Linked DNA regions of Homo sapiens: region 2 is linked to region 1. Evidence: fine-mapped expression QTL. Tissue or cell type: whole blood. Region 1 holds a variant in brackets; the other region holds the start of a gene. All regions are shown on one strand. Distances are from middle to middle.

Evidence for each region.
Region 2: it holds the start of C2CD5, and the variant in region 1 is fine-mapped to the expression of C2CD5 in whole blood (INTERVAL, PIP above 0.99).

What each region holds. Positions count from the first base shown.
Region 1 is chr12:22,620,325-22,624,719 of GRCh38, forward strand. ETNK1-DT (ETNK1 divergent transcript) reads right to left here. Exons shown (of 4, transcript NR_135030.1): 1 at 4,349-4,395. Among named protein-coding and RNA genes, the nearest start is that of ETNK1-DT, 2.5 kb to the right of the region's middle. The variant AT/A (reference allele first, on the strand shown) is at 2,300.
Region 2 is chr12:22,542,951-22,547,345 of GRCh38, forward strand. It overlaps C2CD5 (C2 calcium dependent domain containing 5), which reads right to left and starts at 1,592. Exons shown (of 27, transcript NM_001286176.2): 1 at 1,370-1,592; 2 at 1,111-1,229. The coding sequence starts at 1,200. RefSeq lists enhancers at 1-352, 1,493-1,722 and a silencer at 1,233-1,352.

The sequences.
Region 1 (4,395 bases):
GTACACACTTTATCAAGTACATGGTATGGGATTTTTGCATGTACCTGGAATTGAAACTGCTGGGTGGTAAAGGATGTCTACCTTTAACTTGATAAAAACCTGCAAAATTGTTTTCCAAAGTTTTTACAAATAAATTTACTTCTCCACAAGAAATGTACACTTGGCATTATCAGACTTCAAAATTTTTTCCAATCTAATGGTGTGAAATGGTATCTCATTATTTTAATTTATATTATCTTAATTATTAGACATTACAATTAGGGAGGTATAGTTTCAAAAGTTTATTGGCTATTTGGGTTTCCTTTTCTTCAAACTGCTATTTGTTTGCCAGTTATTCTACTGGGTGGTTTAACTTTCTTATTTATTAGTAGTATCCTGAGTATAAATACTTTTTGATCATACACATTGCAAATATCTGATCTTTTTATGGCTTGTCATTTATCTTCATGGTATTTTTGGTCATGAGGTTTCAAATTTTAATGTTTTCAAATTTATCAGTCCTTTTCCCTCATAGTGTGTGCTTTATGAGTCTGTTTAGGAATCCTTCTTTAACTTGCAATCATAGAGATCTGATCCTATATTTTCTGACTTTTTTATTAATTTACATTTATTAGCTACTACTGCAAGGCAGTATGTGGATTGACAAAAATACAAATATGAACTAAAGTCCATAGTTTATATTAAGGTTCACTCTTTGTATTGCATAGTTCCGTGAGTTTTGACCAATTTATAATGTCATGTATCCACCATTATAATATCATACAGAATAGTTTCATTGCCCTAAAAATCTCCTATGCTCCATTCTTCCCTTCTTGTGACTTGGTCCTTCATTTCTTTTCATCATTCAATAATGTTCCATTTTATGGATGTAGCAGTTTTTATTGTACATTCACCTATTTTCTTGGTTGCTTCCAATTTTTGACAGTTATGAATAAAGGTGCTAGAAACATTAGTGTGCAAGTTTCTGTGTGGATGTAAGTTTTCAAGTCATCTGGGTAGATACCAAGGAACATGATTGCTAGATTGTATGGTAAGGCTATGTTTAACTCTGTAAGAATCTGCCAGACTGTCTTCCAAAGTGGCTGTACCATTTTGCATCCTACCAGTGATGATAGTTCCTCCTCACATCTTCATAGCATTTGGCTGGTTGTGTTTTGGATTTCAGCTGTTCCAATAGATATGTGATGGTATCTCATTGTTTAGATGTTGAATATGTTTTCACATGCTTTTGTGCCATCTGTATATCTTCTTGATGAGATATCTGTTCCGATCATTTGCCCATTTTAAAATTGGGTTTTTCTATTGTTAAGTTTAAGGAGTTCTCTGTATAGTTTGAATAGAAGTCTTCTATTGAATATGTTTTGCAAACATTTTTTCCAGTCTGTGGCTTGTCTTTACATTATCTTAACTATCTTTTGCAGAGCAAAAGTTTTTAATTTTAATGAAGTACAACTTAACAGTTTTCTTTCATGGGTTGTGCTTTTGGTGCTGCATCTGAAAAGTATCTGCCAAACCCAGAGTCACCTAGATGTTCTGTTATGTTGCTTTCTAAGAATTGTATAGTTTTGTGTTTTATATTTATGTCTATGATCCATTTTAAATTACTTTTTGTGAAAGGTGTAAGATCTGTGTCTGGATTCTTCTTCTTCTTTTTTTTTTTTTTTTTTGCAAGTGTATCTCCAGTTGTTCCAGCACCATTTATTGAAAATTTGAATTGCCTTTTTCCTTTGTTAAATATTAAATATTAGTTGACTATATTTGTGTGGATCTATTTCTGGACTCTATTTTGTTCCATAGATCTATTTCTCTATTCTTTTGAGAATACTACACTGTACTACACTGTCTTTTTTTTTTGGTTTTGAGACAGAGTCTCACTCTATTACCCAGGCTGAAGTGCAGTAGTGTGATCTTGGTTCATTGCAACCTCCGCCTCCCAGGTTCAAGTGATTCTCCGGCCTCAGCCTCCCGAGTAGCTGGGATTACAGGTGCCTGCCACCACGCCCAGCTGATTTTTATATTTTTAGTAGAAACAGGGTTTCACCATGTTGGCCAGGCTGGTCTCAAACTACTGACCCCAAGTGATTCACTCGCCTTGGCTTCAATACTACACTGTCTTGATTATTGGAACATATACTATTTTTTTTTCTTTTTTTAGGCAAGGTCTAATTCTGTTGCCCAAGCTTGAGTGCAGTAACTTGATCATGGCTCACTGCAGCCTCAATCTCTTGGGCTCAGGCAATCCTCCTGTCTCAGCCTCGGAGTAGCTGTGACTACAGGTGTGCACCACCACACCTGGCTA[AT/A]TTTTTTTTTGGAGAGATGAGGTCTCACTGTGTTGCCCAGGCTGGCCTTAAACTCCTGGGCTCAAGCGAACCTCCTGCCTCAGCTTCCCAAAGTGCTGGGATTACAGGCATGAGCCACTGCACCCAGCTATACTGTCTTCAAGTCTGTCTGTTTTCTCACTTTGTTTTTCTTTAATATTGTATTGGCTATTCTGGCTCTTGTGGCTTTGCATGTAAACATTAGAACTGGTTTGCTGATATCCACAACATAACTTGAGGTGATTAGAATTGAATCAGTAGATCAGGTTGATAAGAACTGATATTTCTTGCACATTTTTAAAGTTTTGCTTTTAACATTTAGGTTTCTAATCTTCCCCAAATTAATTTTTATGCATAATAAGAGGGAGGGATCAAAATTTTTTTCTCATACAAAAAGCAATTGTATCACTACGGTTCATTGATCAGTCTGGACTTTCTCACTAATTTTTAATGCTACTTTTGTTATATACAAAGTTCTCATATGTGTGTAGGTTTTGTTCTGGGACTTTATTATGTTCTAGTAGTTTATTTGCCCATACCTAAACCAATATATAATACATCCTGGTAGGGTTGGTCCTCCCAATATATTCCCTGATCTTACCTGTCCCTATCCTCCTCTCCCCAATTACAGCGCTTTTCTTGGACCTTAAGTTTTGATATGAATTTCAATGTCATTTTAACAAGTTCAGTAAAAAAACCCTTTTGAGATTTTAACTGGAATTGCATTATATGTACTGATTAGTTCAGGGAAAATTGAGGCCTTTACATTAATCTTTTCTCATTTATGAATATGGTTCATTTCTCCATTAATTTTATCCATGGATCCTGTACATTTTCGGTTACTTTTGTTCTCAGGTACCTAATAGTTTTTTTTTCTTTTCTTCTACTTGTTAATGGACTCTTATTTACCATTACAAACTAGTGCAGTTTGCAACATAATTTTCAATTAAATTGTTTTACAGTTACATAGTTTTAAAATTCTTAAAATGTCAACTGCTTAATAAAAAATACAATTTATACAAAAATACAAGAGATACTATCTGAAATGTGAAAGTAGTAGTATATTTATGATTTCTCCCCAAAGTGGAAGGAACACACACTCTAATGTTTCTTGTAGAAAATTATGCCTAAATCTGGCAGGGCGCGGTGGCTCACGCCTGTAATCCCAGCACTTTGCGAGGCCGAGGTGGGTGGATCACCTGAGGTCAGGAGTTCGAGACCAGCCTGGCCAACATGGTGAAACCCATCTCTACTAAAGATACAAAAATTTGCTGGGCGTGGTGGCACGCGCCGGTAATCCCAGCTACTCGAGAGGCTGAAGCAGGAGAATCCCTTAAACCCGGGAGGCGGAGGTTGCAGTGGGCCAAGATCGCGCCATTGCACTCCAGCCTGGGCGACAGAGTGAGGCTCCGTCTCAAAAACAAAACAAAAAAAAACAGAAACAAAAAACAAACAAAAAAACCACTAAATTTGAAAAATGTTAAATCAACTTCTTTGCTGTATTATAAAGCTCCATTTCCACCCCTCTTTTTAGTTTAGGAAGTTTACCGTTATCGGTGAAGTAATTATTTTGTTAATTACAAAGGTAAGTAGGTTCTTTCTGAACAATCAGGATGTAAACTTAATGCTAGTGAAGTAATTAAACATTTTGAATGTTAATTAAACTCAGTCCAGTTAAGGGTTTTATTTACTACTAACAAACGTATTCACCGTGTGCTAAGTGCTGCAGGGAATCCCAGCCCGTTTTCCTCCATCTAAAAGGAAAATTAGGAGGTCCCAATACTTTACTTGTAGATTTTCCAGTTTCTACCATTCCCTGTAAGGCACTGAGACGCAAGATTTCAAGGCCCACTCGGGGTACCCTGGCATGGACATCGAGTCGTTCTAGCGCTGAGCTTCAAAACTATTCCTTTCCTTCCCTTTCTTCTTCATACCAGACTCTAATCTGTTCTCCCTAGCTTCGAATTATTCACTGTATGGTCGAACATCTTACTCCACAAATAACCTCTGAAGTGTTGCAGTTGTCTTACCCAAATACCTGAACTCAGCTTGTCCCGAGTACTGCGATCCCGCGTAC
Region 2 (4,395 bases), 77 kb before region 1:
GCAAACACTATGTTTTAGTTATTTGTGGATTCCTATCACCTAACATCTGGCACAAGAGCACTCAAGAACTTTCTCAAATGAAGTGATTAAGAATCACCATGACAATGGGCAGGGGAGGCAGTGAACTGTAATTATTCGGTTAGAGAACATTTAGGAAACATCAGGAATATTGAGATGAAATCGAGCTATATATTATGATATATCTATCCATCAATTCTAAGCACTAATAGCCCAAATGATTGCTGCTCTAATGCTCTGGCTCATCACGCCAATTTTTATTACAATCTTTACTTGGCTTCTTTCAGACTCTGGGTTATTACCTTCCGGCCGTAGGCCTTTACTAATTTGCATGACTTTTAAACTAATCATTAGACTTAAAAAGCAATTTTGCAATTTAAGTCCATGGCAATTAAATGACTTCCTACCTCAAGGCGCTAAATTACCCTGAAACACCTCATCAGACCTACCAGCCTATACAAGAGCAGGAAGTGTTGCAGTTGTGTTTTAGAACGTGCATGGCAGATTCACAAAATGTTAGGCATGAGAGTGGATTTCCTCGCACTGTGGGACTCCAAGTGCCCATAAAGGGCTTCATGCACCTTCTTAAACATGATGTCCAGCACTCTGGCCACCCCTTCCAAGGGTGTGTGTGTGCCTGTGTGTGTGTGTGTTTCAGTGGCTGCGGGGCCACACCTTGGGATCTCCTGAGTGGCAGGTGGCCTGTTAATGAGTCCTGACATCAGAGTCATTCCGGCATTTGTGTGTGTGTGTGTGTATGTGTGTGAGTGTGTCGGTGGCTGCGCGGCCACGCCTTGGGATCTCCTGAGTGGCAGGTGGCCTGTTAATGAGTCCTGACATCAGGGTCACCCCCGCATGCACAACAGTACAAGCCTCCCCGCGCAGCGGACTGTGCCGCGGACGCCTGCAAGCCGTGCACCCATCGCACACACTGAGGTCTCGGCGGTCATCCCTCGTGGGAGAGCTGGACAACCACGGCCGAAGGGAGGGCAGTCGAGGGGGGAATAGGCTGAGGGGCTGGGGGCGAGGTGGGTAGATCCTTCACAGGGCTTGGCGCTCCCTGTGTTTTGAGGGGCAGGACCCTGCACCAACCTCCACGAAGGCATCAGTCAGGTCACTAGCACGGTCCATCACTGGCAAATGGCGCCCGGCCACGATTTTCACCTTCAGCTTCCCTGGCATGGTCTCGGTTTCGGCCTCTTCTTGGGCTCCTGCAGAAACAAACAAACGAGTCTGCGCCGAGCGCGGGGCCGGCGGGAGAGGGGCGGAGGCGCGCGGGGTAACTGACAGCGAAGGAGCGCGCGGGGGCGCGCGCGGGCGCCCGGCAGTCGCGCCACGGGTCGCCACTCACTGTCGCAGGAGGAAGGGTGCTGTCCCGCGCGGGTGCTGAGACCTCATTCCGGAGAGGCGGCGGGAGGAAGGGCTTTGATGGGTTCTTCCGTCCCGGCCCCACAAGGCTGGGACGAAAAGCAAAACCCAGTCAGCATCCCGTTGAGCCTCTGCCGCCCCTGCTTGTCTCTCCTCCCCCGCTCTCAAAAATGGCGGCTCTCGGGGCGCGGAAGAAAGCATCGATCGTTCGGCGCTCTGCCCACTTGGCGGGGCGAAACTAAACTCGCCGAGGAAAGATAAGGGGGCGGGGCTGACGTTGAGAAAGCTGGAGGGCAGGGAAATGGGCCGAGTCCTGCATCATCCACCGAGTGGGGGCTGTGGATAGGTGCGGCGCTGCTTCCCTGGAGGGAAACGCTCCATCTTGCGGGCCGAAGCGCGAGTGCTGCTCTGTGACAGCCTCCGGCCGCGGCCTTCCCAGCTGCTACCGCCGCTTTTCGGATGGGCTGTGATAGATGGAGTAGCAGCGAAGACTGCTAGAAGAGCGTTTTCAGTCGGCCTTTAGTGATTCGTAAAACCAAATTAGCTGGTTTCTACTTGGAAGGGGTACAGGTGCGTGTGGTGGTTCCAGTTTTCTGTGAAATAGAGTTAGATGGCCAGGCACAGTGGCTCACGTCTGTAATCCCAGCACTTTGGGTGGCCGAGGCGGGCGGATCACCTGAGGTCAGGAGTTCAAGACCAGCCTGGACAACATGGCGAAACCCCGTCTCTACTAAAAATACAAAAATTAGCTGGGCGTCGTGGCGAGCGCCTCTAATTCCAGCTACTCAGGAGGCTGAGGCAGGAAAATCGCTTGAACCTGCGAGGCGGAGGTTGCAGTGAGCCGAGATCACTCCTCTGTCTCCAAAAAAAGAAAAAAAAGAAAGAAAGAAATAGAGATACCAGGCACATCTCGAATAGTGAAATAAATATTTAGTGAAATATTTTATTCAGTCATAGGCACTTGTGTTGTGCACTGGGTCACAGATATTACTGTGGGCGGGGTGGGGGAGGTCACCTTGAAATCCAAAGTCTCCTCTTGAAAAAAAGTTTCTGCTGGTAGGTGTGGTGGCTCAGATTTGTAATCCCAGCACTGTGGGAGGCTGAGGTGGGAGGATCGATTGAGTCCAGGAGTTCGAGACCAGCCTCATGGAGACGAGGCAACACAGTAAGACCCCTTCTTTACAAGAAATGCAAAAATTAGCTGGGCCGGTGGCTCGTCTGTGGTCTCAGCTACCTAGGAAGCTGAGGTGGGAGAATCTGGGAGAATTGCTTGAGCCCAGGAGTTTGAGGCTGCAGTGAGCTGCCATCTCACCACTGCACCCCAACCTGGGCAACAGAGCAAAACTCTGTCTCTTAAAAAAAATTTTTTTTTAATTAAATGTCCTGCACTCTTAGATCATCTCAGTGTTCTTATTAAGCATCCACAAGCCTAAAGATAAGACCTACAGTAGTAGCAGAAGTTCAGGACTTCCTACCATGGAAAGTATAGTCAACCACAAGAAATAAACATGGAGAGCGTTAAACATCTTGAAGAATTGACCCAACTATAAATAAAGTAAGGTGTTATCTACAGGCTCAGACCATATTAGGGAAATTGAGGCACACACAAGATGTAAATAAATCAGTCCTTACCAAATATCAAAATCAGCATTGACAGTATACCCAGTATCAACAAAATCAGAGTTCATGCCGGCTCAAAGATTGTAACATTTCATTCCTAAGTGAAGATATCCGTATGATCTTTTTAACTTCGAAAATACTCAATAGAGTAAATACTCCAAACAGTAGTGATCCCGAATTATCTTTTCATGACAAAAATTCCTTCTATGGCAGGAATATTGTTCACATAAGTGAGAAATTGAACTCCTACAGAGAAAACGACTTCCTCAAAATAAAAATCTAAAAAAATCGCTTGCTTTTTGGACTAGAGAAACTTTTATCAATTCAAACTATGTCAAAGGAATAGGGGTCATAGATCCCATGCGAATTTCCTTAGGTCCACCTGCAGCTTTTTCTGGAGTCTGACTCTGCCCTTAAAATACCCTTGCCAGAATTCTGAAGGTTGGCTACACTATGTGATCAACGTTTTTTATTTATTTATTTATTTAGAGACAGGGACTCACTCTGTGTCCCACACTGGAGTGCAGTGACATGATCATAGCTCACTACAGCCTCAATCTTCTGGGCCAAGCGATCCTCCCACCTCAGCCCCCCAAGTTCCTGGGACTACAAGCACATACCACCATGCACCGCTAGTTTTTTAAATTTTTTGAAGAGATGGAGTCTCCCTGTATTGCCCAGGCTGGTCTCAATCCTGGTTTAAGCCATCCTCCTGCCTTGACCTCACAAAGTGGTGGGATTACAGGCATGAGCCATCTTGCCCGGCATGATCAGTGTTTTTTGTTGTTTTGGGTGGTAGAGTTGAAGTCGTTTTTGTGGTGAAATCGAAGTATTACCGTATTACCAACTCATTTTTTAAAATATGAAATGTATAAAGAAAAAATATTAGAAAATTGAAGTTTAGCACCAATATTAATGGAAAATAATGCATTGTGTTCCAAAATGTAAAAAGTTGCAAATTGCACAATTAGAGGTTAGCAATCTCAGCCTCCTAATTAGTAGACTTTGAGGTACTTGTACGTACTTGTTGCCTTAGGCTTCATCAACAAGAGATTATAATTAAGATGCTTCCTGAAAACTATTTTTAGTAGATTTAAGCCTGACTTCAGTTGAACTGTTTCCTAATAATTGTTCTCGTTTGTTTTCATTAATGCTGGGAACAGTGCTAACTTTCTGACAAATCTACCATGATGTGACTCCTGATTACCTTGTTTAGCTTCATACCCTGACACTCTTTTTGCATTTTAAATTATCAATAACAAGAATTAACGTGTATTGATGGTTTGCCGCACACCAGCTACTGAATTCAGCGTTTCACAGCTGTTAAGGCTCCCTAAAATCCTGAGGTAGGAATTATCAGCCTTCATTTTATAAATGAGAAAATTATGG